Homo sapiens: one gene and its partner. The protein of the gene in region 2 interacts with the protein of the main gene of each other region in a biochemical or structural test. Each region holds a gene or a part of one and is shown on either strand. Other genes may lie near its edges. The genes, in order: TRPV4 and MAP7.

Region 1 (3,777 bases), on a different chromosome or scaffold from region 2:
GAGTTCGAGACCAGCCTGGCCAACATGGTGAAACCCCACCTCTACTAAAAATTAAAAAAAATTAAAAAAAAAATTAGCGGGGCATGGTGGCGGGTGCCTATAGTCCCAGTGACCCGAGAGGCTGAGGCAGGAAAATCACTTGAACCTGGGAGGCAGTTGCAGTGAGCCGAGATCACGCCACTGCACTCCAACCTGGGGGACAAAGCAAGACTCCATCTCAAAAAAAAAAAAAAAAAGACGTGTGTGTGTGTGTGTGTGTGTGTGTGTATACACACACAAAAAATTTGCCATCTTAATCATTTTTGAGTATACAATTCAGTGGCATTAAGCACATCCACATTGTGTGACCATCACAGCTATCTATTTCCAAAATTCTTCCATTCCCCCAAGCAGAAATTATTTTTTTTAACCTTCTTTTGAGACAGGGTCTCACTCCATTGCCCAGGCTAGGGTGCAGTGGCACGATCACAGCTCACTGCAACCTTGACCTCCCAGGCTCAAGTGATCCGCCCACTTCAGCCCCCCATGTAGCTGGGATTACAGGGATATGCCACCACACCTGGCTAATTTTTTAAAAACGTTTTGTAGAGATGGGGTTTCACTATGTTGGTCTTGAACTCCTGGGCTCAAGCAATCCTCTTGCCTCGCTTCCCAAAGTGTTGGTATTACAGTCACCACGCCTGGCCCAGATAATATTTCACTGTACACATAGCCCACATTTTGTTTATCCACTCATTTTTTTATATATTATCTTTTTTTTTTACATATTATCTTTAATTTTTTATCCTATCTATTCATTTTTGTTTGTTTGTTTTAAGGCAGAGTCTTGCTCTGTCCGCCAGACTGGAGTGCAGTAGTGCAATCTCGGCTCACTGCAACCTCCACCTACCAGGTTCAAGCGATTCTCCTGCCTCAGCCTCCCGAGTAGCTGGGATTACAGGTGCATGCCACCACTCCCGACTAATTTTTGTATTTTTAGTGGAGACAGGGTTTCACCATGTTGCCCAGGGTGGTCTCAAACTCCTGACCTCAGGTGATCCACCCACCTTGGCCTCCCAAAGTGCTGGGATTACAAGCACGAGCCACCACACCCAGCCAAGATTTGAGCTTTGGATTCAAACTGAACAGAGGCTGGGTGTGGTGGCTCACGCCTGTAATCCCAGCATTTTGGGAGGCTGAGGTGGGAAGATCGCTTGAGACCAGGAGTTTGAGACCAGCCTGGGCAACATAGCAAGAACCCCATCTCTACAAAAAAATTAAAAATTGGTCGGACATGGTGGCATGAGGAGGCTGAGGTGGGAGGATCGCTTGAGACCAGGAGTTGGAGGCTGCAGTCAGCTATGATCACACCACTGCACTCCAGCCTGAGCAACCCTGCCTCTAAAAACAAACAAAAAATGGAATTGAACTGATCGGATGGCCTAGGAGGTGGGTTCTATTATTGTTCCCATTTCACAGATGAAGAAACTGACTTTGTCTGACTCCAAACATTCTGCTTATGCTCCATGCTGACAACCACTTTACAATGAATGAATCAACTGGAAAGAAAAGATTCATGAAGGGGTTCCCCTAAGAAGCTGGCACTCCCTGTGCCTCTGGAACACGGAGTCATTCTGCAGATGGGCTGGGTGAGGTCTCCAGCCCTGGAAACTGCACATTCCTCAGCTTCCCATTTCACCGAGGGCACTAGAGCTCACCCCACTGTTTGGTAGATACAGGGTGATGCTCTAAAATGAACCCACCATCCAAGTCTCTGCTTCCCCCTGAGCAAGAACAGGGGAGCCTGTGGCGTCCCGATGCGCGTCGGGCACTGGCTGAGCACTTCTCACGTGCTGACCTGTCTAATCCGCACCGCCAGCCTAGGAGCCCGTGAGATCATTGTCTCATTCCACAGATGAAGAAACTGAGGCTGAGAGAGGTGGGCTGACTTGCCTGAGATCGCCTGGTGGAAATGAACTCTGCTCGGGCCTCTTGGGGCCTCAGTGGCTCCAGAAATTGCAATGGGTAGACGACGCTGGAGCAGCAGGGGCCCCGAGCCAGTGGGGACAGTTCCGCCCTGCCATCCTGGCCCCACTGCCCCAGCCTCACCTGAAGCACCACCTGCGGTCAGGAGTGCCGTCCGAGCTCTTGCCCACGGTGACCATCTCCCCAGAGCGGAAGGCCTTCCTCAGGAATACGGGGAAGGAGCGCTCAATGTCCAGGATGGTGGTGGCCCACTGCGGGGAGGGAGGGTCAGGAGGGACATCGGTGAGCCTCACAGCCTGCGCCTGCCGCTCTGGTGGCAGAAATGAGACAACGGGCCAGGGTGGGCCCAGAACTAGGCATTTAGACTCCTACTCCCCACTAGACACAGGGTTTATAAACTCAAATACCCACAGGTGGCAGGCAGGAAAACAAATGGGTGAAACAGGATCAGGTGCAGAAAGGCTGCCGCCCAAGCCCTATCACACTTACACAGCAGTTGCCTCTCAGTGAGGGAGGGGTAGAGACTGGGGAGAACAGGGAGCAAATGCCCACGTGTAAGGGGGCAGCTGCCACTCACCCCACCTGAGGGCTGCCAGGCAGGAATCCGGACCCTGCACTGCCTGGAGCTTCCAACTTTTCAAGAAAAGCCAGAAATCTGGGTTTTCATAGGGAATCTCTTAATTTTTAAATTTTGCAGTTTTTTGTTGTTGTTGTTGTTTTTAATATAATGGTCTGATGCTGGGTGCAGTGGCTCACACCTGCAATCTCAGCACTTTAGGAGGCCAAGGCAGGTGGATAGCTTGAACTCAGAAGTTCAAGACCAGCCTGGGCAACATGGTGAAACCCCATCTTTACAAAAAATACAAAAATTAGCCGGGTGAGGTGGTGCACACCTTAGCCCCAGCTACTCGGGAGGCTGAGGACAGAGAATCACTTGAGCCTGGGAGGCAGAGGTTGCAGTGAGCCAAGATCACACCATTGCACTCCAGCCCACAGGATGCCCAGTTTGCATCCTGTGAGTAATGCCCAGTGGGGAAACTGAGGCCCAATGAAGTAAGCAATATAGATAAAGGTTAAGAGCAGGCCAGAGCTGTTTCCCTCAGACCCAGTCCTGGGAGGACAACCTTGGGCCCTTTTTTCTCACTGCACCATTTTCCTGAAATGCACAGTCAAGGTAAACACGGGTGCTGTATTCCTGGGCCGTGGGGCAGCACTGTTTATTAGGACACCAGGTTTGTAGGCTGCACCTGGCCTGGGAGGGCTGTGATCCCAGGGCCTGTTCTTTCCAGGATTGCATAGAAAGCTTTTGGTAAGTAAAAACTTTCTGCAGCTCCCCGGGCCAAGGCGGCCCCTGTCCCCATTGGTTTCTCCTCTAGGAAGCATGCTCACAGTTGCTAGAAAAAGACCCCCATGAGAATGCTGACATCCCTGTGCTGGAGTGCTAGAGCACAAAAGCTGCCCCTGGGCTCAGCGTGGGACCCCTGCTGAAACGCTGATGCCCACGGAGCACTTTCTGAGCCGGCAGAAGTCACTCAGTCATGCTAGGTGGAGCCGACTGTGTCCTGTGAGCTGGACCACAAGGAGAATCTGAGCCCACTGCTGGCAGCCAGGCAAGAAGCCACCTCAAAATTCACTAGGCAGCTCTGGGAAGTCAGCAGCAGCCTCTGATGCCCATTTTACCGACAGAGAAGTGGAGGGAGAATGAGAAGACACTGCTTGCTCAGAGTGGAAGGCCGAGGAAGCCAGTCGGGTGGGTCTCCTCGGAAGGACGAGGGTGGCTGGTAGAGTGGGGCTGGGGGCCCTGGGGCCTCA
Region 2 (4,057 bases):
CCAAAGTGCTGGGATTACAGCCATGAGCCACCACGCCCAGTCAAAATAGTTTACTTTCTCTACTGAGTGAGAAGTATTGACTTTGGAACACATACTAAAGCATTTCTGATTTGAATATTTGTGTATTTTTAAAATTATTAAACCTTCCTTTTTTACGGAAAAAATGAAGATGCCTGTCCTAAGTGTCTCACAAGGCATTGCAGAATACACTGAAAACATTATTTGTAAAATAATCTGAAATATTATACAGTGTGATGATGCTTTTCTGCTATTTTACTAAGAAGGGAAGGGAATGCCACTAGGCATTATAAGTCTCCACAAGAGTACAGTCACACACATGTGCACATGCCCCCCCCCCCAAGTCACGTGTGCACACACATGCCTAACATCTACTGTTCTAAGTGCCTGGGCTGCCACACCCATCTTCCTGTTCTTGCCTAACACCAACAGCCTTTCTGTAACTAGGGAAACAATTTTGGTTCTTAATACAGAGAGAATTTAAGTAGAAGTCCTGGCAAAGGATAAAGAACAGGAACGTATCTCCAGAGCCCCCTTTCCTTGGCAACCTTAACCTGTCACCTTCCAGGCCTGCATGTACTAACAAGTCATAATGGCAATGGCTAACCCCAGACTTGAGCCAGTATCAGATTTCATTTCCCCTCCACCTGCCCATTCTACCTGCTGGCAATCAGAGGGATAATTGTGCCATATGCATTGGATGACAAGTCATGAAATGTTCAGGGGACATCGGGACTGGTAGAAACTATAAAACTGAAACTGAAGTACTGGGGTTAAGGAGTATGGATCCGTGTGTCCACTCAGAATAAGAGCACCAGCTTCTGAATTCCCTGCCTTCAGTTACCTTCTGAAGTTTGAAGACTGATGTAAGACTTTTGAAGACCGCACGCTTTGCTCCAGTCCAAAATGTGTACAGGCAGGGGTTGGGACCTTGGCAAGAATCTGCAGTCCACACAGCTTATGGAAGCCAGAACCTTATTTTCTCTTGATATTTATTAATTATGTTAAAACAAGTAACTTTTAAATTAAAAGGGATACATCTCTTCCTGTGTGAACAATAGGGGCCTGGGAATGTTACTTTTCCTTCAGGCCAAACTAAGAGCAATGATGAACTCAAGATTTGGAGGGAAAATGAATGGGTCAAACACCAAAATTACCAAAAACTTCTTATTTAAAAAAAAAGACGAACATTCTACGAAAAGACAGCTCCCCTACGGCAATGAACAAACATGAAATGTCTTCTGGAGTATTAGGAGGGTAAGGCAGTATCTGTATAGGCAGCAGAGCTTCTTAGCCTCTGGACTAGAGATTCTCAGCTAGGGGTAGAAGAACATCTCAGAATGACCTGAGAAACTGCAGATAACTTCCTCTGTTCCCATTCTGATATTCACCCCTGTCCTCCCCGACTTGTATTCATATGGATCCGTATCCTTTGTTTCCTGTTCCAAAGCAAGTTTCCTATCCATGGACAAATATTTTCCTCAATTCCTGTGGAACATCCCTCCACAAGTACTCTCTCTTAAGAACCAAACATGGCTTTTGAGTAAGAATGATCAGCTCAAGGGCATATATAATATTCATATATTTCATAAAGATATATTTCAAGTATTTTATAAACGTCGTATATCTTACATAGGAAAATGTATATATTCATTTATAAAATTTTATAAAATCCATATATGTTATTAATATATATTCATATATTTCTTTGAGACAGGGTCTCACTCTGTTGCCCAAGCTGGAGTGCAGTGGTGCAATCACGGCTTACTGCAGCTTCAATTCCCTGGGCTCAGGCGATCCTCCCGCCTCAGCCTCCCGCGTATCTGGGACTACAGATGCATGCCACTGCCCTCGGCTGATCTTTGTATTTTTTGTAGAGACGGGATCTTGCCATGTTGCTAGCTGGTCTTGAACTCCTGGGCTCAAGTGATCTGCTTGCCTAGACCTGCTAAAGTGCTGGGATTACAGGCGTGAGCCACCACACTTGGCATATTCACATATTTCTGTATACCTTTAAAATCTGGCCAGAATTGTGATAACTCAAACCCTCTTCCATTCTAACTAATGTCAGTGGGGAACCTGTCAGGGGGAAAAGAGATGGGCAAGAAAAATGGCTTTGGGGCAAAGGGGCCAGGCGTCTCACTCAGGAGTAAGGTGAGGAGTAGGGTTCAGGATACTTCTGGTACAGAGTTGTTCTATAACAAAGGGTCTCAGTCCTAGCTGCTAGGAAAAGTAATGTTAGGGGGTCGCCATCCTCCTGGGGTGCTGCTAGACAGTTTGCTGAAATATCTCAAGGTGGGGAGGAGCAAATGTAATTTAGTTCACAGCATTCATTTATTTACGAATATATTAGGTACTAAAGACATTAGGAAAAGTGATACTTCTCTCTCAATTTGAATGAAAAGATAGTCATTCTGAGCAGTGGAGTTTTCTAGCAAAAATAAATTCTACCACTATACTTGCATGATCTGTCATGATGGATTTTCATGGAGTATCAGGCACACCATGTTCTTTGGCAGGGACCCCGAGCATTTCCATTAATCAGTGATTTAATTCACAGTGGGCAAGCTGGAGGGATCTATAACTCTACTTGAGGTGCAAAGTAGGGTATTTAATAAAGATACTGACTGATCACAAGGATCATGGAATGCCTCACTAAAAATAATGCACTGAGATGAAAACCAAAGATTTTATAAGCATTTTAAGGTTGATTTGAAACTAGGAGTGAAAGGAAATATTTATGGATGTGATTTGTCATTTAAAGTTTTTAACAGAATTTCAGATGTAAAACTGTTTAAAAACCTGAGTTTCCACTGCATCAAAGGGAATGTTTATTCATGAATGGGAAGCTGTTTTGGGGATGGATTTTAAAGACAAGAATAGGCTGGGCGTGGTGACTCACGCCTGTAATCCCAACACTTCAGGAGGCCAAGGTGGGATGACTGCTTAAGGCCAGAGGCCAAGAGTTTGAGACTAGCCTGGGCAACACAGGGAGACCTAATCTCTATAAAAATATATATGTTTTAAATTAGCTGGGTGTGGTGGCTCGCACCTGTAGTCCCAGCTACTCAGGAGGCTGGGGTGGGAGGATCATTTGAGCCAGGAGGTAGAGGCTGCAGTGAGCCATGCTCGTACCACTGCACTCCAGGCTTGGTGACAGAGCAAGACTCTGTTTTATAAAATAAAAATAAAACAAAATAAAGACAGGAATAAGCAAGCCCTTCTCTAGATGGAAGAGTTTAAGTGGCAGAGAGCCCCAGGGATCAGTGCTAGGTTTAGTTTTATAATAATCGGAAGACAAGCAGGATAAAATTTAAGTATGCAGATAATGTTTATTCTTGGAAATGCAAGTCATAAAAATAGCCCCTCGAGAAAACAGGGAAAATCATGAAATGAGTGACAAGGCAGGCAGTCTGTAAAAGCAGTGGGTTTAGAAAACTGTCAGCTGAGCTATCCTTAAAAGACAGTGAATGATCAGTCACAATGGAGGTTAAGACATCTTGGGATCACTGCAAACTGTTCCTTGGTGATACTGACTCCTTGTGTTTTGATGGTAAAAAAAAAAAAAAAAACGAAAAAACAAAAAAAAGCCAATAAAATGCTAGGCAGGAGAAGATGGGATACCAGGAACAAACCAAAAGCATTATTTTACATCACACTGCAGCTACACCTAGTGTACTGTGTGTTTTCTGGACACTGCATTCATTTTAGGAGGATAAAGATAATGATATGTAACATTCATATAGTACAACAGTTTTTGGAACTCCTTCACAGATAGCATTTCACTGAACCTCCCAATACTTTGTGTGGAAAGTATCTCCATGTCCAGATGAGAAAACTAAGGTTTAATTAAGTAGGTTAACCCCACAGTTGCTGAACTTCTCAAAGGTAAAACTAGGGATCCAGCCTGGAACTTTTGGTTCTGAAGCTCTTTTTCCTCAACCCCATATTCATGCTGAAGAATCTCTGAAGAAATATGAATAAAATATTCAAACAGCTGAAGGAGTCTTTTAGAGATAAGGTAAATATGTCAGTTATT

The links.
Region 1: the proteins of MAP7 (region 2) and TRPV4 form a complex in vitro, tested with the Homo sapiens proteins (one study listed by BioGRID).

Annotation. Positions count from the first base shown.
Region 1 is NC_000012.12:109,784,622-109,788,398, forward strand, and holds part of TRPV4 (transient receptor potential cation channel subfamily V member 4), read right to left. Parts: intron 2,276-3,777; coding exon of another isoform or gene 2,255-2,275; exon of another isoform or gene 2,217-2,254; coding exon 2,089-2,216; intron 1-2,088. UniProt on the Homo sapiens protein: Non-selective calcium permeant cation channel involved in osmotic sensitivity and mechanosensitivity. Activation by exposure to hypotonicity within the physiological range exhibits an outward rectification.
Region 2 is NC_000006.12:136,347,664-136,351,720, forward strand, and holds part of MAP7 (ensconsin), read right to left. Parts: intron 1-4,057. UniProt on the Homo sapiens protein: Microtubule-stabilizing protein that may play an important role during reorganization of microtubules during polarization and differentiation of epithelial cells. Associates with microtubules in a dynamic manner.